Regions from separate parts of the Homo sapiens genome. Here regions 1 and 2 are each linked to region 3. Evidence: fine-mapped expression QTL. A gene starts in region 3. Each other region holds a variant in brackets. All regions are shown on one strand. Distances are from middle to middle.

Region 1 (8,184 bases), 70 kb before region 3:
GGAGGGATCCTCCATGGACTCCCTCTGCTCCCTCCGCGCTGAGACCAGATCAGAGCAGCCAGGTGCCAGAGACTGGGCTCTGCATGGCGCGGAACGGGAGCGACCGGGTAGAACGGACGCCACCTCACCAGCGCACGGGCACGCTTGGCGCCCGCCCAGCGGTTGTCCCGCCTCGCCGCCGGCCGCGCCCCACCTCGCGCCTCCGCCAGGCACCACCCCCGCGCCTGCGCAGAAGGGTCGTGGCGGCGGCGGCGGCGGCAGCGGGGCACGTGGGAGTGAACAGGGGGCGGGGCTTTTGAGGGGTCAGGTGGGGTGGGGCCGCCACCTGCTTCCGTGAGCGCGGGGAGAAGCTGGGCACAGCTCGCTTTACTCCCAGTGGAGGGCGGGAAGGTGAGTAATTTTCAAAGAGGTGCCCTCCTGCAACCAAAAGCGGCTTCTCCCTGACAGAATTCTCTCTCAGAGTTTACCATAATCTGTAACTATAGATTTAATTGTATGACATTTCTTTCCTCCAGTAGACGTCCAGGAGGGCAGGGACCTTGTCTTTGTTCAGATATTCTTGATAGTGGCAGTTTGTATGTTTTCTTTTTCTGACTAATCTAGCTAGAAGTTTATCAATTTTTAAATCTTTTCAAAATGTCATGTTTTGGTTCCATTGATTTTCTGTTTTCTGGTCCATTGCCTTATTTTGCTCTTTATTGCTCACTTGAGTTTTGATTTCCTCTTCTTTTTCTAGTTGCTTAGAGTAGAAGATGATTGATTCTGGATCTTTCTGCTTTTCCAATGCTAGTATTTTAAGGCTATAAATTGCCCTCTAAGCACTGCTTTAGCTGAATTCTCCTTTTTTTTTTTCTTGGTGGTTGTTATTTTTGAGACAGGGTCTCACTTTGTTATCCAGGCTGGAGTGCAGTGACACAATCATAGCTCACTGCAGTCTCAACCTCCTAAGCTCAAGGGATCTTCTCAGCTTTAAACTGTAGAAGACACAGTAGCTGGAACTGCAGGTGTGCACGACCACATCCTGTTAATTTTTAAATTTAAATTTTTTGTAGAGATGGGATCTCACTGTTGCCCAGATTGGTCTTGAGCTCCTGGTCTCAAGCAGTCGTCCTGCTTCAGCATCCCAAAATTCTGGGATTACAAGCATAAGCCACCTTGCCTGGCCTGCTACTGTGCTTTTGTTTTCCTTCAGCTGAAAATAGTTTTTAATTTCCTTTATGATTTCCTCTTTGACCCTGTAAAGGAAAATAAAAATCTCAGAACCACCCCCCACCCCCAACTTGTTATGTCAAAGGGAGAGTTAAGCCTGGAGACTGAAGTCACTCAACACTACAATGCTTTTCCCAAATGGATAGCTGTTACTTCCCATAGTTGTATTAAAACTTTATATGTTAGCCAGACCCTCCTCAAAATGCAAAAAAAAGCCTTATGCATCTCAGTCTCAGGATGACTGTCCTCAACAAATTAATCATAGTAAATTCTTTACTGGCCCTTAAACCTTTCAAGATGTATATCCTTCCATAAAACAAGGACGTGTCAATTGTATAACTTTAAGTCTGCAACCTAAATCAAACTGGTACAACTAAAGTCTGTTAAATTTCACATGGATAAATTCAGTTACAAGCTTATCTTCCCAGATGCAGAACAAGGATAAGATCAATCATTCCTTCACCTGAGATATCTGTATAATTAACTTCCTTTACTCCATTTTCTTTGAATATTCACCTTATCTTATGCATAGCATAGAGTTACTGGGCACTACCTAAAGTCTAGCAAAAATGTAACCATTTGCTTCACCACCTACAACCCTCTTCCCTGATGCCTTCTCCGCTTTAAAGAAAGAATAGCTGTAATTACAGGTGCCTGCCACCATGCACGGCTAATTTTTGTATTTTTTAGTAGAGATAGGGTTTCACCACATTGGCCAGGCTGGTCTCGAACTCCTGACCTCAGATGATCCACCCGCCTCGGCCTCCCAAAGTGCTGGGATTACAGGTGTGAGGTACTGCACCTGGCCTGTAAATGCCTTTTAATTGGAGTTTGGGGTCCATTTACATTTAATGTAATAATGATGTGGTTGGATTTAGATCTATTATTTTGCAATTTGGGTTTTATTTGCTTTAACCTTTTCGGTTCCTCTGTTCCTCCTTTCCTGCCTTCGTTTGGATTAATTCAATAATTCTGATTATTTCATTTTCATTCCACCATTGACTTTCTGTTATACTTATTTTTTTTCTTTTTTTGAGATGGAGTTTCACTCTTGCTGCCCAGGTAGGAGTGCAGTGGTGCAATCTTGGCTCACTGCAACCTCTGTCTCCTGGGTTCAAGCTATTCTCCTGCCTCAGCCTTCTGAGTAACTGGGACTACAGGCACATGCCACCATGCCCAGCTAATTTTTGTATTTTTAGTAGAGACGAGGTTTCACCATGTTGGCCAAGATGTTCTTGATCTCCTGACCTTGTGATCCACCCACCTGAGCCTCCCAAAGTGCTAGGATTACAGGCATGAGCCACCACGCCTGGCCTCTGTTATACTTCTTTACATTAATTTTTAGTGCTTACACTAGGGTTTTCAATACTCATCCTTAAATTATCTCAGTGTACTAAGAGCCAATATTGTACTATTTGACATAAGAGGTAAGAACTTAGTGTCATTCCATTTATGCCCCATCGTTTATGTTATTGCTGTCATGTATACTAGACCTAAATATTTAAATACAGTGAATAATTTTTGCCTTAATTGCTTTTTTAGAGAAATTACCCACATAGTTACAACTTCCGGTGTTCTTCCTTCCTTTTTGTAGATCAGAGTTTCTATCTAGTATCATTTCCCTTTCCTCTGAAGAATTAAAAACAAATTTTATAATGCAGATTTGCTGATTAATATGGCTTGGCTGTGTCTCCACCAAATCTCATCTTCAATTCCCACGTGTTGTGGGAGGTGGGAGGTGGGAGGTGATTGAGTCATGGGGGCAGATCTTTCCAATACTGTTTTCATGATGGTAAGTGAGTCTCATGAGATCTGATGGTTTGAAAAACAGGAGTTTCCCTGCCCAAGCTCTCCTTGCCCGCTCCCATCCACGTTAGATGTGACTTTCTCCTCTTTGCCTTCCCCCATAATTGCAAGGCCTCCCCAGCCATGTGAAATTGTAAGTCCAGTAAACCTCTTTCTTTTGTAAATTGCCCAGTCTCAGGTATGTCCTCATCTGCAGCATGAAAACAGACTAATACACTGGTGATAAATTTAAGTTTTAATTTATTAGAAATTGTCTTTATTTTACCATCATTTTCAAATGCTATGTCCTCTGGATACAGACTTCTGGGTTGATATTGCTATCCTTACCCATCTAAGTTCAACTGTAAATATGTCATTCTATTGTCCTCTTGCCTTCATTGTTTTTGAATCATAACCCTTCACTTACACACCCGACTTGTGCTATGTCATTTTCTCTAGCTGCCTTTAAGATTTTCTCTGGTTCTTTGGTTCTTTGATTTTCAATAGTTTGACCATGATGTTTTTGGTATGATTTTCTTTACAAATATCTTGCTTAGGTTTTGCTTTACTTCTTGAATCTGTAGATTTATGTTTTCCACAAAATTTGGAGAAATGTCATTCTTTTTTTTTTTAGAAGCAGTTTATTACCTTAAAGCATTTAGCAAACCTAATGTCTGACCTAATTTCAACCAAATGTCTTTATTTTACCAATAATCTTCAAAACTCTTGATTTCCCAAAGCCTACTAAAGTCATGCTGTCACAGGCCATTAGACAGCATGAGCAGGGCAGGAAAGGGCTCTTCTCCCACCCACCAGGAATGTTGGGTGATGGCTCAGCAGTTATCACATTGCCTCTCTAAAAGTCATACATTGGCACCTAGGGTCAGGGAGACGCCATTTCCTGATGGTCCACACCTATTGCACTAAAGTGTTAATTGAATGCAGATGCCAGGGAGATGCAACTTCCCAGGCAAATGCATTAAGAGACAAAACGGCAGAGTATGACCTTTCCGTGGCACTCCATGGGAAAAGGGAAGAAAGCCTTGGGTGGGCATGTGTACAACTTCCTAAACACACTGCATGTGCTCACCTCCCAAGGATAGGGAGGGCACTGTGCATGCGGGCAGCTCACCCTAAGGAAAGAATCATGGGAAAAGAGCCAGCCTATAAAGTCCTAGGATCAAGGTTCAACACTGCACTTGACCTTCACGTGCCCACGTGCCTGCTTGAGTCTCTTCCAAGCATACTTTCATTTCTTTCCTGTTCTAAAGCCTTTTTAAATAAGCTTCCACTCCTGCTCTGAAACTTACCTTGGTCTCTTTTTCTGCCTTATGCCCCTCAGTGGAATTGTTTCTCCTGAGGAGGCAAGGATCGAGGTTGGTGCTGACTAGTGCAGATTCGCTGCTGGTAACTTGGATACCTTCCACCAGTAACAACATCAACTGAAAGGCATTACAGTTTTTATTTTTCTGACAAAATATTTGATTTAAGCACTTGTTATTTTTAAAACATTAATTAGAGCTCTTTCATATATAAACATTACACACATAACACACATATAACTACACAGACAGACAGAAGATCCAGTAGTTGTAGGATTTTTCATTTGCCAGTTTTTGTTTCTTAATTGGATTACTGGCTTCAAGGTGGAGCCCTTGGAGGAACAGGGCTAGGAAAACGTGCAGTTTCTAGGGCCTAATAAGCATACAGAGCTGGAAGGCAAAACAGATCCCCAAAACTTCAGGGTCCCTTTTTCATACTAGATCCTGAATCCCCAAAAAAGAAATGCTACGGAACAAGACAGAGC[G/A]TGATTTTACCATGCATTTCATTGCAAAGCAACCCAAAGACAGTTAGCCTGTTCTGTGATCTCAGTCATTATTTCTTCAAATATTTCTTTTCTGCTCTATTCTCTTTTCCTTCTGAGATTTCTATTACATGGATGTTAGACTCTTTGATATTGTTCCAAAGGGCAGTAGAACTCTACCTATGTTTTCATTTTTCTCAATAATTGTTCTCTCTGTTCTTCAGGTTTGGGATAATTTGTCTTTATCTGTTTTAAATTCATCAATCTTTTGACTATTTCCAAAAAGTTGTTAAGCCCACTCAGTTTGTTTTTAATTTCAGACCTGTACTTTTCAGTTCTACAATTTCTATTTAGTTCCTTTTTAGAGCTTCTACTTCTCTGCTGAAATTTTCCATCTGTAACTCATTATGACATATATTTTTAAAGTCCTTGAAAAAAATGTATATATATAACTTTTAAATGTCTCTGCTAATTCTTACATCTGGGTCCTCTTATAGTCAGTTTCTATTTACTGCTTTTTCTCTTGGTTATACGTCAAACTTTCCTGTTTCTTTGCAATATCTGTTAATTTTTTATTGTATACTGAATATTGTGGATAATATATTATAGAGCCTCTAAATTCTGTTATAGTCCTCTCACGAATGCTGATTGTTCTAGAAGGTAAATAACTTGGCTGGAGTCAAACTCCACCTGAAATTTCTGGTCATTTCTTTCAGCAATCCAACTGCTGCTTTTTGCTGAGCTGCTTGAAGCCTCGCCATGTATACACAGTTCAGGAGTCAACCAAGGATTTGGGCAGAGTATATATGCATGTTTTGGAGTTCTCTTCCTCTCTGACTTCTTTGTTTTCAAGACATCTGTCCTCCATTTTTAGCTGTTCTGAGAGTCCCAGAGTCCATTCCCTAACTTCTGAAGCCCTTAAGAAACTGTAGCTTTCTAATTGAGTTCCAGCTGCCTTGCACAGTGAATATTCAGAAGTGCTCTTAGGTGAAAAGGTGTATGAACATAAATCTTACTCATTATATTTCCATGTTTTGAAGAATAGCCATGACTTCCATTCCTATCTGCTTGCTTTTGGTTGCTTTTCAATGTCTTCAAATAATTGTTTTTTGTATTTTGTCCAAAGTTTATCATTTTTGTTATAAGATTAGTTCAATATAGTTTTCTATGGTGTGTTTGATTGGAAATGCATTTTTAGTGAAATGAATAATGCTATATTTTCTCAGTACGTCATCTGTTAGTAGAGAAATATTACTTATAGGTAAATGAGACAAGATTCATCATCAGCTCTATTTGTAGTTTTAGTTTTTACAAATGGAAACACTGAGAAAACCTATTCAAATTAATAGATGGATATGGGAAACATTTTGTAATAGCAATGTCACTCAAGTCTTAGACCTTTTTCCAAGATATATGCTAAAAAAAAAATCAATCACATAATACTCTAGCATCAAACACCTTATGATTTATTATCAGACTCCTTATTTAGGTCCTCCAACATTTGAATTATTCAGTTTCTCAATTTCTGGGGAGTACACCAAAAAGCATTTTAAAAGACTTACCAAATTGTTAATAATTATACTGCAACTCTTTCATTTCAAGCCACCTTTTAACTTGGAGTTGAGAACATAGAAATATTAACATTTCTATAGATCTTTTGCCAATAAAATATTTTTTGTTAAAATGGTTTTATCTTGAAATTTAAGTTTATTTTTGTCAAAGCCCTGGAACTGCTGATTTGGCTCATTCAATGTATGTAAAACATCTAACTTAAAAGTTAATCAGGGCTGGGCATGGTGACTCATGACTATAATCCCAGCTCTTTGGGAGGCCAAGGCCAGAGGATTGCTGGAAGCCGGAGTTTTAAAGACCAGCCTGAGCAACATAGTGAGACCCCAGCTCTACAAAAAAACCCAATATTTAAAAGTTAGCTGGGTATGGTGTCGTACACCTGTAGTCCTAGCTTATGGAGGGACTGAGGTGGGAGGCTTGAGCCCAGGAGTTAGAGGTTACAGTTAACTGTGATCATGCCAGTGCACTCCAGCCTGGGCAAGAGTGAGACCCTGTCTCTAGAAAAAAACAAAAAGTTAATTGGAAAAGCCAGGTTTCATTATCAAATCCATCAGCCAAAGAAGACTTTTTTCAATTCACATAAACATGCTAAAATGTATTATTGTATCGACATCTCGGTTTTAAATTCTAAGGCTCTACCACCTTCAGTATACCTTACTGATACTTTCTTCACTTGGTTCTTATGGGATACTCCGAAAGTACTGGGATTACAGGCAAAGGAATATTTCTTCAACCAGAAAAGAAAGAAAACACTGCTGCTACTTTAGGGAACCTTTGTTAAGGAGGCTTTGCCAACACCTATATTTCAAATACAGCCTTTGTTGGGAGCCTTGGCTTTGTTTACACTTTGGGGCAAAAAGCCATTGGAAGATTCAGAACAGGTGTTCTGATGCCAATTCATGCACTGCTATTCAATTCTGGCACTAACCACCCAGAGTTAGTACAGAACCCACAAGTTAAGCATTTAGTCCTCCACAAGTTTATCCTCATTTCAGATGCCAGCCATGCTTCTGGGGTCCCCTGGCCACCTCCCCTTATGAACAACTAGATACAAATTCAGGCGTCAAACCTGACCCCCTCAGATTTGACAATTTGGTAGAATGATTCATAGAATGCAGCAAAGATCTCAAGGTTCCTGCCTTCATGAAGATTTCGATGAGATGGGATTTACAGACCAATGAACAGGTGATTCCAATACAGTAAGATAAATGCTATGTAGAGGAAGTATGGGCTGCTAAGAGGGCATAGAAGAGGGACCAAGATTTGGGAGGATCGGGAAAGAGAGTTAATACAGACGAAACAAGGGTAGGGGAAGGACTTGACTGAAGTCAAACTCCACCTGAAATTTTGGATCATTTCTTTCAGAAATTCAGCTGTTGCTTTTTGCTGGTCAAATAAATGGTCAGGGTAGGCTTCAAGGGGCAGATGACATGTAAGTGGAGACTTAAAGGATGAGAAAGAGCAGTTTATACAAAAAAAAAAAAAAAAAAGAAGGAAGAGTGCTCCTGGCAGACGGGACCAAAGGCTCTGAAGAGTGCTCCCTGAAGCTCTCTGGTGACCACAGATGGAGGAGTGCCTGTGACCAGAGGGGGGAAGCATAAGCTTCAAGAGGTGGTCCAGGGCCTCACTGTGTTTTATTTCTCAACCTGAAATAATCCAGAGGATTAAAATCCAGTTTTGTTTTTGTTTTTGTTTTTTGAGATGAAGTCTCACTCTTGCCCAGGCTGGAGTGCGGTGGCACAATCTGGGCTCACTGCAACCTCCGCCTCCCAGGTTCAAGTGATTCTCTTGCCTCAGCCTCCCAAGCAGCTGGG
Region 2 (8,184 bases), 56 kb before region 3:
CTCAATAAATCCTCCTGCTGTGGCCTCCCAAAGTGCTGAGTTTACAGGCATGAGCCACTGTGCCTGGCCTTCTGATGCTTTTTATTGAAGAGTTGGTAGGTCTTTCAGAAAGTTTCTGTAATGAACATTAAGTGATTTGACTAGAAAAGAGTCTACTAGAATAGTAAAGTTATACCAGTGAAGACAATGAAATAGTAAAGTTAAGTTCATGCAATTAGACATGGGAAACTAGGTAGGTTCTTTTTTCAGCAAATATACATTTTTAAAAAAATCAAACATCTTAATCAGAAAGTACAGTTGACCTTTGAAGAACATGGGTTTGAAATGCGTGAGTTCACTTACATGTGGATTTTTTTCTACCTCTGCCACACGGAGACAGCAAGATCAACCCCTCCTGTTTCTCCTCCTTCTCAGCCAACTCAGTGTGAAGACAAGGAGGATGAAGGTTTTTATGATGATCCACTTACACTTAAGAGATTAGTAAATATATTTTATCTTCCTTATGATTCTTCTAAATAACACTTTCTTTTCTCTAGCTTACTGCATTGTAAGAATACAGTAATATATATAGTATTGAATATACTGAATACAGTAATACATATAAAATACATATACATATAGTATATGATACATAACATACCAAATATTTTCTAATTGACTGTTATCGGTAAGGCTTCTGGTCAACAGTAGGCTGTTAGTTATTTGAGTTTTTGGAGAGTCAAAAATTATACTCAGATTTGCGGCTGTGAGGAAGGCTGGCACCCTTAAACCCCACTTTGTTCAAGGGTCAACTATACATACTTTGCTAGTGAAAGCTGAAGTTAATTTATACCTGAAGTTTCTTTTCTTTTCTTTTCTTTTTTTTGGAGATGGAGTTTCAGTCTTGTTGTCCAGGCTGGAGTGCAATAGCACAATTTTGGCTCACTGCAACTTCCACCTCCCAGGTTCAAGCGATTCTCCTGCCTCAGCCTCCCGAGTAGCTGGGATTACAGGCACCTGCCACTACGCCTAGTTAATTTATACCTGAAGTTTCTAAGAAAAAGGAATACCAGTCAACTCAATGTACTCCCTGGTCATGGGGAAATAAGATTGTTTTCTTCCAGATATTTGATCTCCAATCTACCATCATTATAATCTGGGAATGACCTTCAAGAACAAGGTGAATGTGTTCTTCTGATATGAAAAATGATTTGCAGGAAGAAGCGAAATTACGAACAACAGCACCAAGCATTTACAGAGACCCTACAACACAACAAACACACACTTTACTTATATTGCCTCCATCTTTACCCTCATCTTTCTCAGATGAGGAAGCTGAGATTCAGAGGAGCTAAATAACTCATTCATCTTCCCATAGCTAGTAAACAGAAGAATTGGGATTTGAACCCAGGTGTCTTTAACTCCAGAGCCCATGATTACTTTTCTTTTACATAGTTATATCCCATCAACTCAGAGCACTTTGATTTTCATACATACCCACAGGTGCTGCATTGCTTGGACGATATTCAAAGTGATATGAGTTTTCTCCACCTTCCATTTGTCCTCTGCACAAAAAATTCACCTGTCCTCTGTTTGATTGGCTTATTAATCTATCATACTGTGAGAAAGGTTACCAAAATGCTAAAGCAGAGGATTTTCTTTCCACTGGACTAAACATGTATCTACCACCTATTGTGTATCAGGGACTTTGCCAGGCAAAATCCTGGTCTGTGATGAGAACAGGTTCATGGGATGCGAGGCTATGGTGGTGATTAAAAATGTATGTACTTAATTATAATGCATTGGTATTATACAGCTTGTGCTGTTTTATATTATTTTTAAGAAAGTTTTTAAATTTTATAACTATATAATTATATAATTCAATTTTTGTTTGTTTTTCATTTTAACAGAAAACTAAAATATCCAAGGCTAATTTAATTTCATATGCTGGACAAATTCAGGAACTAGAGTGCAGGAACTGAGGTTTAACAAGTTATATAGGCTGGACACAGTGGCTCACGCCTGTAATTCCAGCACTTTGAGAGGCTGAGGTGGGAGATCACTTGAGCTGAGGAGTTTGAGACCAGCCTGGGCAACAGGGTGAAACCCTGTATCTACAAAGAAAAAAAAAAATTAGCTGGATGCACTGGTGCATACCTGTAGTCCCAGCTACTCGAGGGGCTGAGATGGGAGGATGGCTTGAGTCCAGGGAGGTTGAGGCTGCAGTGAGCTGTGATTGTACCACCGCACTCCAGCCTAGGCAACAGAGTGAGATCCTGTCTCAGAAACAATGTGTACCACTCTGCGGCTGGGCTTGTATGAGAGGAGAGAGTGGGTGATGGCAGTTGCTGAAAAAAAAGAAAAATAAGCCAAATCCCTAAACCTGTGGCAGAGAGAAAGAATGGAGTGAACACATCTGGGCCTGCAGAGAGGCCTGTGGCTCAACCCTTGAAACCTATATTAGTTTCCTAGGGCTGCCATAAAAATTACCACAAACTGAGTGGCTTAAAGCATCAGAAATTTATGCCCTCACAGTTGGAAATCAAGGTGTTGGCAGGACCATGCTCCCTCTGAAGGCTCTGGGGGAAAATCCTTCCTCGCTTGATGTGGTTTGCTCTGTGTCCCCACCCAAATCTCATCTTGAATTGTAATCCCCACATGTAGAGGGAGGGATCTGGTGGGAGGTGAAAGGATCATGGGGGCATTTTCTTCCATGCTGTTCTCATGACAGTGAGTGAGATCTGATGGTTTAAAGTGTTTTACAGTTCCCCCACTCTCTCTCTCCTTCTGCCTGTGAAAAACGTGCTTGCTTCCCCTTTACCTTCCACCATGATTGTAAGTTTCCTGAGGCCTCCCCAGCCATGCAGAATTGTGAATCAATTAAACCTCTTTTCTTGGCCAGGCATGGTGACTCACACCTATAATCCCAGCACTTTGGGAGGCCGAGGTGGGCAGATCACTTGAGGTCAGGAGTTCAAGATCAGTCAGGCCAACATGGTGAAACTGTCTCTACTAAAAATACAAAAAAAAAAATTAGCTGGGCATGGTGATGGGTGCCTGTAACTCCAGCTACTTGGGAGGCTGAGGCGAGAGAATCACTTGAACCTGGAAGATGGAGGTTGCAGTGAGCAAAGATTGCGCCACTGCACTCCAGCCTGGGCAACAGAGCAAGACTCCATCTCCAAAAAAAAAAAT[C/AC]CTCCTTTCTTTATAAATTACACAGTCTCAGGGTGTATCTTTACAGGAGTGTGAGAACAAACTAATACAGAAAATTGGCACCAGGATAGTGGGGTACTGCTATAAAGATAATCTAAAAATGTGGAAGCAACTTTGGAACTGGGTAACCAGCAGAGATTAGAACAGTTTGGAGGACTCAGAAGAAGACAGGAAGATGAGGGATGAGGGAATATTTGGAACTTTCTAGAGATTTGTTGAATGGTTTTGACCAAAATGCTGACAGTGATATGGACAGTGAAGTCCAGGCTGAGGTGGTCTCAGATGGAGATAAAAAACTTGTTGGGAACTGAAGTAAAGGTCACTCTTGCTATGCTTTAGCAAAGAGACTGGTGGCATTTTGCCCTTGCACTAAAGATCTGTGGAAATTTGAACTTGAGAGAGATTATTTAGGGTATCTGGTGGAAGAAATTTCTAAAAAGCAAAAGAGTTCAAGAAGTAACCTGGCTTTTTCTAAAAGCATGCAGAAATGTCATATGTATTCACAAAGAGATGGTTTGAAATTGGAACTTATGTTTGAAAGGGAAGCAGAACATTAAGGTTTGGAAAATTTGCAGCCTGACCTTGTGGTAGGAAAGAAAAACCTATTTTTGGCTGGGTCTGGATGGATCACCTGAGGTCAGGAGTTCGAGACCAGCCTGACCAACACGGAGAAACCCCATCTCTATTAAAAATACAAAACTAGCTGGGCGTGATGGCACATGCCTGTAATCCCAGCTACTTGGGAGGCTGAGGCAGGAGAATCACTTGAATCTGGGAGGTGGAGGTTGCGTGAGCCAAGATCACACCATTGCACTCCAGCCTGGGCAACAAGAGTGAAACTCTCTATCTCCAAAAAAAAAAAAAAAAGAAAAAGAAAAACCCATTTTCTGGGGAAGAATTCAAGCTGGCTGAATAAATTTGCATAAGTAATGAGGAACCAAATGTTAATCTCCAAGACAATGGGGAAAATATCTCCAGGGCATTTCAGACCTCTTAGCAGCAGCCCCTCCCATCACAAACCCAGAGGCCTAGGAAAGAAAAAATAGTTTCACAGGCCAGGCCCAGGGCCCTGCTGCTCTGTGCAGCCTCAGGACTTGGTGCCCTGTGTTCCAGCCACTTCAGCTCCAGCCGTGGCTAAAAGGGGCCAAAGTACAGCTTGAGCCATGGCTTCAGAGGGTCCAAGCCCCAAGCTTTGGCAGTTTCCCCATGGTGTTGGGCCTGCAGGTGCACAGAAGACCAGATTTGAGGTTTGAGAACCTCTGCCTAGATTACAGAGGATGTATGGAAATGCCTGAATGTCTAGGCAAAAGTCTGCTGCAGGAATGGAGCTCTCACGGAGAGCCTCTCCTAGGGCAATGCAGAGGGGAAATGTGAGGTTGGAGCCCCCACAGAGTCCCCATTAGGGCACTGTCAAGTGGAGCTGTGAGAAGAGGGCCACCATCCTTCAGACCCCAGAATGGTAGATCCACTGACATCTTGTATCATGCACCTGGAAAAGCTTCAGGCACTCAATGCCAGCCTGGGGGCTGTACCCTGCAGAGCCACAGGGGCAGAGCTGCCCAAGACTTTGGGAGCCCAGCTCTTGTATCAGCATGCTCTGGGTGTGAGACATGGAGTCAAAAAAGATTATTTTGGAGCTTTAAGATTTAATGAGTGCCCAGCCAGGTTTTGGACTTGTATGGAGCCTGTGGCCCCTTTGTTTTGGCCAATTTCTCCCATTTGGAATGGGAACATTTACCCAATGCCTGTACCTGCATCGTATCTTGGAAGTAGCCAACTTGCTTTTGATTTTACTGGCTGCTAGGGGGAAGGGACTTGCTTTGTGTCAAATTAGACTTTGGACTTGGACTTTTGGGTTAATGCTGGAATGAGTTAAGGCTTTGGGGGACTGTTAGGAAGGCATGATTATGTTTTGAAATGTGAGAAGGACATGAGATTTGGGAGAAGCCAGGGACAGAGTGATATGCTTTGGCTCTGTGTCCCCACCCAAATCTCATCTTGAATTGTTATCCCCACATGTTGAGGGAGAGACCCGGTAAGAGGTGATTGGATTATGGGGACTGTTTCCCCAATGCTGTTCTCATGATACTGAATGAGTTCTCATGAGATATGATGGTTTGAAAGTGTTTGGCAGATCCCTTCTACCTCCTCCTGCCCTGTGAAGAAGGTGCCTGATTCCCCTTCACCTTCCATCATGATTCTAAGTTTCCTGAGGCCTCCCAGCCATGCAGAACTGAGTCAATTAAACCTCCTTTCTTTATAAGTTACCCACTCTCAGGTAGTGTCTTTACAGCAGCATGAGAATGGTCTAATACATTGCCTCTTCCCAGCTTCTGGTGGCTCCCAGTAATCCTTGGTGTTCCCTGGCTTGTAGATAATCCGTCCAATCTCTGCTCTGTTGTTACATGGTCTTCTCTCTGTGTATCTCTGCGTGTCTTCTCCTCTTCTTATAAGGAAATCAGTCATTGGATTTAGCTCCCACCTTAGTACGGTATGACCTCATCTTGAGTAATTACATCTGCACAGACCCTATTTCCAAATAAAGTCAAGTTCTTGGGTTTCCAGGGGACATGAATTTGAGGGGGAAGCTATTCAACCCATTATAAAAACTTAGTGCAGTAACATACACCTGTTATTATCAGATAGACAGTCTCATCAAAAGCCTCAGTGTGTCATTAGTATAACTTTCCTAGAATCTGTGACTATCACAGAAAGAGAACCACTGAGCAAACCTAAGAAGTGGTCACAACAAAGAGTGAGCACAAGAAAAATCACTTCCTGAATGTGACCAGATTTATGCTGTTTCGTGGATGAAAAGACCATGATTCCAAATTCTGACAACAAAAGCTCTTTGTTGAATGGAAATCTTCCATAAAATCTGCCTATGAAGTACTGGATACTGAATGTAGTTCCATGAACTCTGCAGAACATCTTGGATGTGCTCAGAGCTTCATCAGCAGGGTCCGTCCCTTCCCTACTGGGTGTGTGACAGGCCTACTCTGAGACAGGATAGGGAGAGAACAAGGTGTACATGTTTCTAAACATCCCAGACCTAAGAAGATGCACCAGCTACACTAACAACATGACAGTTTTCTTCTGCTAAGCTTTCTTATCAAGCTGGCTTCAGGATAAAAGAAAACTTAATTTGTCCAAGGAAGCTCTGGCTGTGGAAACTGTCACTCTTGGCTTTGAGGAAACACTCCATAGTGGCTGCAGAGTAGTTTCTGCTCCTTGAATTAGACTTTTGGACTCTGACAGAGGTTAAAAACCAACCTTACGTGATGATACTATTTTTAACTTCTAATCTCAGAGTTGGTATTATTGGGCAATGGATTAGATTAGATGCAAAAGAACATCAGAAGTACAGTCATAATCATTCCTGTTTGATAAGAAATTTTCAAATGGCATATTAATCTATTAATTGTCAACATGTACAGAACATTCCTAATGACTTCATCTATATGGATCCATACATTCCTCCACTTTTAACCCTATTGATTCTACTTCTGAAATATCTCTTGAATCATCTGCTTTTCTTTCTCCCTACCACTACCACCATAGTCCAAGCCATCATCATATCTGTCCTGACCACCACAACTGTCTCTCAACTAAATCTCACTTCCACTCTAGTCCTGCAAATAGTTAGGATACCATGGGCAGCAAATGCAGAAATCTTGATTCCAGTTGGTTTAAAGGAAATTTATTATCTCACATAGGAGGAAGGCTAGCAATAGGGCAAGTTTGGGAGCTGGCTGACTCAGCAGTTCATCATTGTCACCAGAGTCCCAGGTTCTTTCTATCTTTTAGCTCATCTATGCTTAGCTTGTCATCTTTAGTCTCAGGCTGCTACCCTCATGGGTGAAAGATGGCTGCAGCTGTTTTCAGCAGCTTCACACCCAGTCATGGCCACATCCAGATGCAGGAAGAGACTGTCTCCTAGTGCGTTCCTATGAATAAGGATACTTTCCCCAGAAGTCTCCCACAATAGATATTCCTCTCAAAGCTCACTGGCCAAAACAGGTTCGCATGCCCACTACTAAACCAATCAATTACTAACAAAGAGAATGAGACCATCTGTACTGACTTGGACCAATCAGGAATTATCCCCAGTGTTGGGAATATGATCCTATTTCTATGAGTTATCTGGAGAAAAGATGGACACCTTAACAAAACTATAATTTTGCCTGTGAGAGCTAAGGGAGGAAAAGATATTGGACAAGCAACTAAAGGTGTCATCAAGACCCTCTGCCACAAATCTCTTTTCTGTTGAGCAAGCTTGTCCAACCTGCAGCCTGCACACATCCCAGAATGCCTTTGAATGCAACCCAACACAAATTCATAAACTTTCTTAAAACATTATTAGGTGTTTTTTGTGGCTTTTATTTTTTTTAGCTCATCAGCTATCATTAGTGTATTTTATATGTGGCCCAAGACAATTCTTCCAATGTGGCCCAGGGAAGCCAAAATATTGGACACCCTTGCTACAGAGCAACCAGAATACTTTTCTCAACTTGCATTTCCAATTATGTTCTTCCTCACCTAAAAACTTCAATGGCTTCCTATGGTACATAGAATGTAATCCTGAAATCCTATTTGGGTTTACAAGGCCTTGTGGGCTCTGCACACTGCTCTCCTCATTAATTATAAGCCACTCCTTCTGGCTTCCTCTCCATCTTAGGGCTTGTGTGTATGCCTGAACTTGGACTGTACAGAAACAGAACCAATAGGATATATTAGGTTGGTGCAAAAGTAATTGCAAAAGCCTCAGTTACTTTTACACCAACCTATAAAAGATTTATTTCAAGGAACTGGCTTATGTGATTGTGGGGGCGGGCAAGTTCAAAATTTGTAGGGCAGGCTGGAAACTCAGGCAGGAGTTGATGCTGCAGTCTTGAGGCAGAATGCCCTCCCTGAGAAACCTGTTTTTGCTCTTTTGGCCTTTCAATAGACTGGATGAGGCCCACCTACATTGTGGAAGGTAATACCCTTTAC
Region 3 (8,174 bases):
ATTGGTGACCCACAACAAAATTTGTCCAAACGGATGTAGTCTGGTGAGAACTGCAAACTCATCGGTCTGTGAAACTGGCTTAAACAACAGGGTTGTAGGGCCCATGGCCATGTTCTACCCTATGATTCTCCTTCTTATGGAAAATAACACTTTTAGATAGCACAATACAAAACAGAAGTACAAAGGACAGCACAAAGGATGAAAAGGAATTGCCTGATTCCACTAAGGATGCAAATAGGAACCAGTAACAAAATCTGAGTACCAAACTTCAAATGAATAGCTTAGGAACTCAAGGCAAACAGGGAGGAGTTCCAAGCCAGCACTGACTTACCATGTTGGCATGGACTTGACAAGCCATAAGCAACAAGGCACGAGGAGCCCCTGTGGGCACCACAACTGGCCAAAGGCTGAGGTCCACCGCCATGGACAGCACAGACCATGTCTCAGTGAAGTCTCCAGGAAAACTGGAAATTCAGAGCGTGCTAGAGAAGGGAGTCAGTCACCATCATTTACATTTGTCAAGAGTCTCAAAGGCAGGCAGGGGAGTGGGAAAGCTTTATAGTGAAAGATTCAGGTACAGGGAAGAATTCAGGTGTGCCGATTGGAGGTGTTGGCAAGGAGAAGCTAGAGGTTGGCTAACTAGAAACAGGGCATCTTATGTAATTTAAGGAGGATATTTAGCTTTCTCTGGTTGGTCTTAAGTTAGAAGCGAGTAATAAAAGAGGGAAGCTGGCAGTCATTGCCCAAGTCTTAACCATTCTTGGCTGATTGCTGCAGAGGTGGTGGTTTGGAAGTCTAGTTGCTAGAGAGGTTGTGGGTGAGAGTTCTGTTATCACATATGATCTGGCCATTGTCCATTTGTATAGTCAGTCTATCTAGGGGAAGATGTCATTGAGCAATTACCTCTCATTTAATCATCATAACTGCCTCTTCCATATCCCCATTTTACAGATAAAGCAAAGCTCAGGAAGTTTGAGTAATGTATTTAAGGTTATACAACTAGTGACCCTAGCAGAATTTAAACCTGTGTGTTCTGGACCTATTTTAAATGATGCTTCATCTTGTAAAGACCATGAGGTTATTCTGATGTTGCCCTATTAAAAATAGTAATTACATACTATTATTAAAAATAGTAATTACATACTATTTTAAAATAGTAGTTACAAACTACTATTTTAAAATAATAATTACATACTATTTTTAATAGATAGCATCATTTAAAATAGGTCCAGAACACACAGGTTTAAATTCTGCTAGTGTCACTCATTGTATAACCTTAAATACATTACTCAAACTTCTTGAGCTTTGCTTTCCTGATCTGTAAAATGGGCATATGGATAAATACTTGTTGGGTGAGTGAATGGATGAAAGTAATTTTAGAATACTTCTCTTGAAATTGCTTCCAAAGCTGGTATCTTTTGAATACCTTTAATGAATGCATATCTTGACAATGACTAACTTTTTGGAAACAGACAAACATTTTTCTGAAGTAAGGTGGTGAATAAGGTAAGAGAAGAAGCTGGCTCAAAAACCTGGCGTGTCCATTCAGTAATGACATTAATTTTGGGATTTTTGCACATTTTGCATGTGATTGACAAAGCAGCTTTGAAGGCTTTTCCAAAGAAGAAGTTGCAAAAATAGTTGCATTTTGAGAATAGGAACACAACTTTCCAAAAGTTTGAAAAATACTCATTTTAGAAAGTATGCTAAATTCTTGTTGTTTTGTGGTTTACCTTTCTGTTTAAAGTAGTTAAATGCTCTATGTCATTCAACAAATATTTATCAAACAGCTATTATGTATTTAGTGCTGTGCTTTGAACACAGATATTGGTATAGCCCTTGTGAACCAGGAGTTCACAGTCTAGTTGAGACAGAAAATTAACAATTGAAATGCAATTCAACAAATACCATAAATAGACTGATTTATATTAATAGCTGGATGCCATGGGAACATGCAGTAGAAACAGTGATGAGCTGGTACATGTTGAACAACTGACTTCTAGGGGAGTGGGTTGGAGTGTAAGGGCCTGATTAGCGGTGTTTACTGATTTCCATGGTGTAAATGCTCCCACCATGGCCAACGTGACATCATCAAAAGAGGAGTTGGAAGATGTGCAGTAGTATAACATTACATTGAATTTCCACCATATAGATAAAATGCATGTAAATAACCTGAAGAGCATAGATAATAGTAAAATGTAAAATAATTAGGAAGTGACAAATTTTGAGTATTTTTACTTTTGCTTGTAATATAATTTTTGAGTGGCTGTATTTGAAAACTAGCTCACAAAATTACTGAACATTTAACAATCAGCTCTTGCAAGTGGGTGTGACTCAGTGCAAATGGACAAACCACCAGGTGAAAGCAATGTCAGGAATTACTGTAGGCTCACATAAGATGAAGATTGTAAGGAAACTGGAGGCAGGGATCTCCAGCAGTGAACCTCTAAGTTGTTGAACTGTTACAGCACTGCCAGGTTCCTATGCCGGCTGTGCAGAAACAGACCAGTATTCCGACAGCAGGCTTGCAGCAGAGAAAGTTTTAATAATCACAAGTTACAAGCCAGGAAACAGGAAGAGTTCTCAAGCTTCAATCCATTTCATCAAGGGGTTCTAGGCAAAGTTTTTTAAGGGGATTTGTGGAGGGTGAGGGGCTGGAAAATTTGGGGTTATCGATTCGTTGGGGTAAGGGAGATGAAATCATTAGGATGTGACAATTGCATTCCTCCATGAATCAGCTTTTTATTGGGCCTTCCAGACAAGTTGGCGTCCTTAGTTTTGTTGGTATGCGGGACCTAAAGAAGCAATGCAAACAGAAAGCTTATCTTCTCATAATGTCTTAGATTTTATCTTCAGAGCAGAAAAAGAATGAAGAGTCTTGTGACAAGGGCCACATTCTCCTGGGGTAGTAAGTAGCAACCAGCTACAAGAAAGTCGGCCACACTGCAAGCTGGCTTAATAACAGCAGCTGTAAGCCTAGTTGGATTTTTTTCCCCTCCTTAATCAATTTTACAAAATGTTCTTGGGGATAGTTTCAGAATGGTCAAACTAATTCATTAATTCAATATCAACTTTTTTTTTAGGCCCTACTTTATTCTGGGCACTGTTTTAGGTGCCCGGGGGAAGGGGGCACCGCAGCAAAAACCGAGGTCCTGCCGTTAGGTTAGAGAGTTTACATTCATGGGTATGGGTGTGTGTGTGTGTGTGTATAAACAAACGTCTGGCATGTCACGTGGTGAGTAGTAAGTGCTATGGCTAAACAGTAGTGTCAAGGGGAAAATGAGTGGGGCACTGCTATTTCCTATGGGGTTGTGAGGCAGTAATAAGTGTGGAAATGTATCAAAGTAAAGATCGAAGGTTCTGGCATCTGACAGTTTGAATAAGGCGGAAGCACAGACCCTGCACAGATCTCAACCATCCAACAGGACTGAAACACAGAACTTGGAAAAACCCACGTACCTGCTTCTTACTCTGCTCGCCCGGTCTGCACAAGTGCAAAATCCTTTCCTGAAGTTTGTGTCAGGAACACCAGGGTTTAACTAGACGAATCAGCCGCAGCGGGGCGGGGCTAATTTCAGTCCTTCCTTTGCCAAAAGTCAGCGAAAAGCGCGGACTCCCTCGCGCATGCTCAAATACGCCAACTTCCTCCTGGAGCGCCATCTGAGAAGGTCTGCGCATGTGCACGAACGAGAAGTGTTTTTTTTGTTTTGTTTTGTTTTGTTTTGTTTTTTGTCCCAAGGCGCTGCCGTACCGTCCAGGCGGCGAGTTGCATTCTGGTTCCGTCGTGTGTCTGGCGTGTGGAGCTAGTGCTCCCGCTTATTCGCCACTGTCGCCACCGCTGTCATGAACCGCGAGAGCTTCGCGGCGGGAGAGCGGCTGGTGTCGCCGGCTTACGTGCGGCAGGGCTGTGAGGCCCGCCGCTCGCATGAGCACCTCATACGGCTGCTTCTGGAGAAGGTACCGAGCTGTCGGTCCCCTCCCCAGCCGCCGCGACCCCGGGGCTCTGGCTCCGCCGGGCGTCCCCGCTGGTGCTGCCTCACCGGCAGCTCTTCGCTGCTTGAGACTAGTCCCAAGTCTGTCTCAGCTTGGCTTGCCCTAGCTGACCGACTGCGGTCTGTGCCTTCTCAGCCTTGCCAAAGCCAGTGAAAGCCAAATGGTGTTGTTAGGAGGGGGTGTTGGGGTCGGGGTTTTGAGTCCCGCTGTTTCTAACTTCGGGATGCGGAAGTGAGGGAAAGTCCCAGTGTACTTTTTTATTCGCGGAAAGGGCAAAGTTCGCACCTCCATCTTTCACCAACCCTCAACGACTCAGAACACATAATGGTGTTTGTAGACTGTATGCTAACTCGAACCACGAGCTTTCCGCGGAACTTCACAGGTCTCCCTCCTGCCAGCGTTCATGTATTTTAATTTCATTAAAAGTTTTGTTGTGTTTTGTTTTTTTGAAACAGAGTCTCGCTCTTTCGCCCAGGCTGGAATGCAGTGTGACGATCTCGGCTCACTGCAGCCTCCGCCTCCCGGGTTCACGCCATTCGCCTGCCTCAGCCTCCCGAGTAGCTGGGACTACAGGCGCCCGCCACCACACCCGGTTAATGTTTGTATTTTTAGTAGAGATGGGGTTTCACCATGTTGGCCAGGCTGATCTCAAACTCCTGACTTCAAGTGATCGGCCATTCTTGGCCTTCCAAAGTGCTCGGATTACAGGCGTGAGTGAGCTACAGCGCGTGGCCAAAATTTCACTGAAGTTTGACAACTACCGCCCTTCTCCACGTCCCACCGCCCCAGTCGTAACGCCCTGGTTTGAAGCATCTTCACTGGGGATGTGTTGTATTGGTTTTCAGTTAGTTTCACTTACGGAAATTTAAATATCTCAGTAAACCTCATTGTATGCATTTATCATCACTTCTCGAAATCTGTAAATAATTGTAATCAAATGTACAAACGTTTTGCCTCTTTGCGGTCTCTATACAGTGGTGAATTTATGCTTGAATTTTAGAAAACAAGCAGCGTGGCAAAATACACGTTAAAAAGAAAAACTGTATTCCTGTAGTATTCTAGAGAACGGTAGTTTTATTAAATATAATCATAAGTTTTTTTTTTTTTTTAAGGGCAAGTGTCCAGAGAATGGCTGGGATGAAAGTACACTTGAACTCTTTTTACATGAACTTGCAATCATGGACAGCAACAATTTCTTAGGCAATTGTGGTGTGGGAGAAAGGGAAGGGAGAGTGGCATCCGCACTGGTTGCTCGTCGTCATTACAGGTATCTTTTTTTAAGTAGTACAGGAGATACATCGTTTATTTATTTTTGGTTCAAAATAATGGCAGCAGTATTTATCTTATTAGATTATCAAATGTCAGTTTGTAAACCACTTCTTCCCTGCTCTAATGGATATGTAAGCCAAATGCAACAGGGAGATGGAAACAATTTTATCTCAGCAGGTGCTTTTCAAAGACAATAGAGTAAAAACTAAGTGGGGGTTACCCTGTCAGGTTCTGGGTGACTAACACAGGCTATACGTTTTCTTAGGAACGGTTACCCTAATAAACATATCTGGTTGTAAGAGTTCAAAATCCATTAAGGTTGTTTATAGCTTTCCATATTTCTTTTCTAACATTTGTAGTGTTTTTTTTTTTTGAATGATTTATAGTTATCAACTTTAAATTTTGTTTTAAACTGTGTTTAAACTGAATCTCATTTTATAAATACCTCTGTTGCAATAGATACAGGGAAAGGTGTATTAGATTATTAAGTGACCTTTTTCTTTTGCATTATTGCAGAAAGCTTTTCATCAATTCTGATAACGATTTAATTGGTAGTTAATTGGTAGTTAATATGATCACTCATTGCTCTGTCCACTAACCTTTCTGTGAAGTGTAAACTCTTTTAAATGAAACTCCTGTCTTCCATGCTTTTACATTATAATGAAAATTTCCTGGGCATCGTAGAATTTGTATTTCAGTAAAAACCACTGCAGTCAAAACTGATGATAATGCCTAACTTGGATGAAAATTTCAGTTAACAGTTTGCTGATAACATGGTTGATAATATATGTAAGAAATGTTTTGTACATGAGATTTCAGTGGTGAGGAAGTACAGCACTAGTATTCTTCGATAATCCTCCTATACCGAATTTCTGATATATTTGACTGTCAATTAGAAATTACTCAAATTACGAAAGGGTTTTTTATTTTAAAGAGTATTGAGAGGTATCTTTAAACAATGTATAATATTGTCTAATTTAAAATGAGATTTGCACACTGATTTTCTAGGAGCATATAGTTCTTTTAAAATTAAGGCAATATTTGAACCATCATTGGAACTTAGCCCAGTGTGGAATTAGGGGAAAAGTAAAGAAAAAAGATAATTTGGCCGGGCACGGTGGCTCACGCCGGTAATCTCAGCACTTTGGGAGGCCAAGGCGGGCGGATCACGAGGTCAGGAGATCCACACCATCCTGGCTAACATGGTGAAACCCCGTCTCTACTAAAAATACAAAAAAATTAGCCGGGCGTGGTGGCGGGCGCCTGTAGTCCCAGCTACACGGGAGGCTGAGGCAGGAGAATGGCGGGAACCTGGGAGGTGGAGCTTGCAATGAGCCGAGATCGCGCCACTGCACTCCAGCCTGGGCGACAGAGCGAGACTCCGTCTCAAAACGAAAAAAAAAAAAAAAAAGATAATTTAATATTTCATGTATTCTAGTTTTCTATTGCTACAGAACAAACCACCCTAAAATTAAGTGGCTTAAAACATTTATTGTTACCTCTCATAGCTTTTTGGATTAACTGGGCTCAGCAGGGTGAGTATTGCTTTGGGTCTGTCATGTAGTTGCAGTCAGATACTGGCTGAGAGTTTAGTCATCTGAAGGTTTGCCTAGCATGAAAATTTCACACAGTTACTTCTGCTAGATTCTTCCTGGCCAAGCAAGTTACTAAATTCAGCCCAGATTCAAGTGGAGAGGAAGTAGACTCCATCTCTTGGTGTGGGAGTAGCATGTGGGCATAGGGAGAAAAAGAATTGATGGTGGCCGTCTTTGGAAACTAGCTATCACAGCATAATTGATGAAATTATTTCAATTTAAGTAGGAGAGTTCCACATCATTAATAGTTTGTGACATATATCTGTAACAGCCAAATATTGCTCCTGGTGTTTTTTTGGTTATTACATTTGCATATTTGTACATTGTATTACTCGGAATGCTGAATGTATTTGTCCAGTTTTTGGCCCATTTTTTGCTTAGGTTCATTCATGGCATTGGACGATCCGGTGATATTTCTGCTGTGCAACCAAAAGCTGCAGGCTCTAGCCTTTTGAACAAAATTACCAATTCTTTGGTCCTGGACATTATAAAGCTGGCTGGTATGTACCGTCTTAATCATAATGCTTTTGGCTGTCTGGACACACACACACACCACTGACTCATTTCATTTATTATTGCCCCTTTCCAAAAAGAGTATGAGTGGCTTTTGAAAAGACTTCTTTTTTTTTTTTTTTTTTTTTTTTTTTTGAGACGGAGTCTAGCTCTGTTGCCCAGGCTGGAATGCAGTGGCGCGATCTCGGCTCACTGCAAGCTCCGTCTCCCGGGTTCACGCCATTCTCCTGCCTCAGCCTCCCGAGCAGCTGGGACTACAGGTGCCCACCGCCACGCCTGGCTAATTTTTTTTTGTATTTTTAGTAGAGACGGGGGTCTCACCGTGTTAGCCAGGATGGTCTCGATCTCCTGACCTCGTGATCCGCCCGCCTTGGCCTCCCAAAATGCTGGGATTACAGGCATGAGCCACCGCGCCCGGCCGAAAAGACTTTTTTTTTTTAAATAAAAAGTCTTTAGAATAAGATAGAAAATCAGAGCCATAAGCCCTGAAGTTGAATTTGGCATTGAGCTTTCCAAGAGCGAGTACAGAAACAGAAGCCCTAGGGCTACGACTCTTACTATTTTATATATGAAATATATTATTTCCTCAAGAAGGATGCTGGGTGCTTAGCGGGATAACAGATTTCTGTTTTGCTTCTTATTTGTAGGTGTCCATACAGTAGCCAACTGCTTTGTAGTTCCTATGGCAACTGGTATGAGTCTAACTCTGTGTTTCTTAACATTACGACACAAAAGACCAAAGGCAAAGTATATTATATGGCCACGAATAGACCAGAAGTCCTGCTTTAAATCCATGATCACTGC

The links. PIP is the estimated chance that this variant, and not a neighbour inherited with it, causes the effect.
Region 1: its variant is fine-mapped to the expression of SEPSECS-DT in whole blood (INTERVAL, PIP above 0.99).
Region 2: its variant is fine-mapped to the expression of SEPSECS-DT in whole blood (INTERVAL, PIP 0.97).

Annotation. Positions count from the first base shown.
Region 1 is chr4:25,225,995-25,234,178 of GRCh38, reverse strand. It overlaps PI4K2B (phosphatidylinositol 4-kinase type 2 beta), which reads right to left and starts at 146. Exons shown (of 10, transcript NM_018323.4): 1 at 1-146. The coding sequence starts at 15. LOC105374535 (a long non-coding RNA gene) reads left to right here and starts at 314. Exons shown (of 4, transcript XR_925490.3): 1 at 314-390. RefSeq lists an enhancer at 1-320 and a silencer at 47-356. The variant G/A (reference allele first, on the strand shown) is at 4,802.
Region 2 is chr4:25,211,783-25,219,966 of GRCh38, reverse strand. The region is part of intron 1 of LOC105374535 (a long non-coding RNA gene); the gene reads left to right. Among named protein-coding and RNA genes, the nearest start is that of PI4K2B, 18 kb to the left of the region's middle. The variant C/AC (reference allele first, on the strand shown) is at 3,175.
Region 3 is chr4:25,156,039-25,164,212 of GRCh38, reverse strand. It overlaps SEPSECS-DT (SEPSECS divergent transcript), which reads right to left and starts at 3,541. Exons shown (of 2, transcript NR_037934.1): 1 at 3,460-3,541. SEPSECS (Sep (O-phosphoserine) tRNA:Sec (selenocysteine) tRNA synthase) reads left to right here and starts at 3,764. Exons shown (of 11, transcript NM_016955.4): 1 at 3,764-3,957; 2 at 5,106-5,260; 3 at 7,239-7,357; 4 at 8,018-8,174. The coding sequence starts at 3,844. RefSeq lists an enhancer at 3,501-3,800 and a silencer at 3,911-4,080.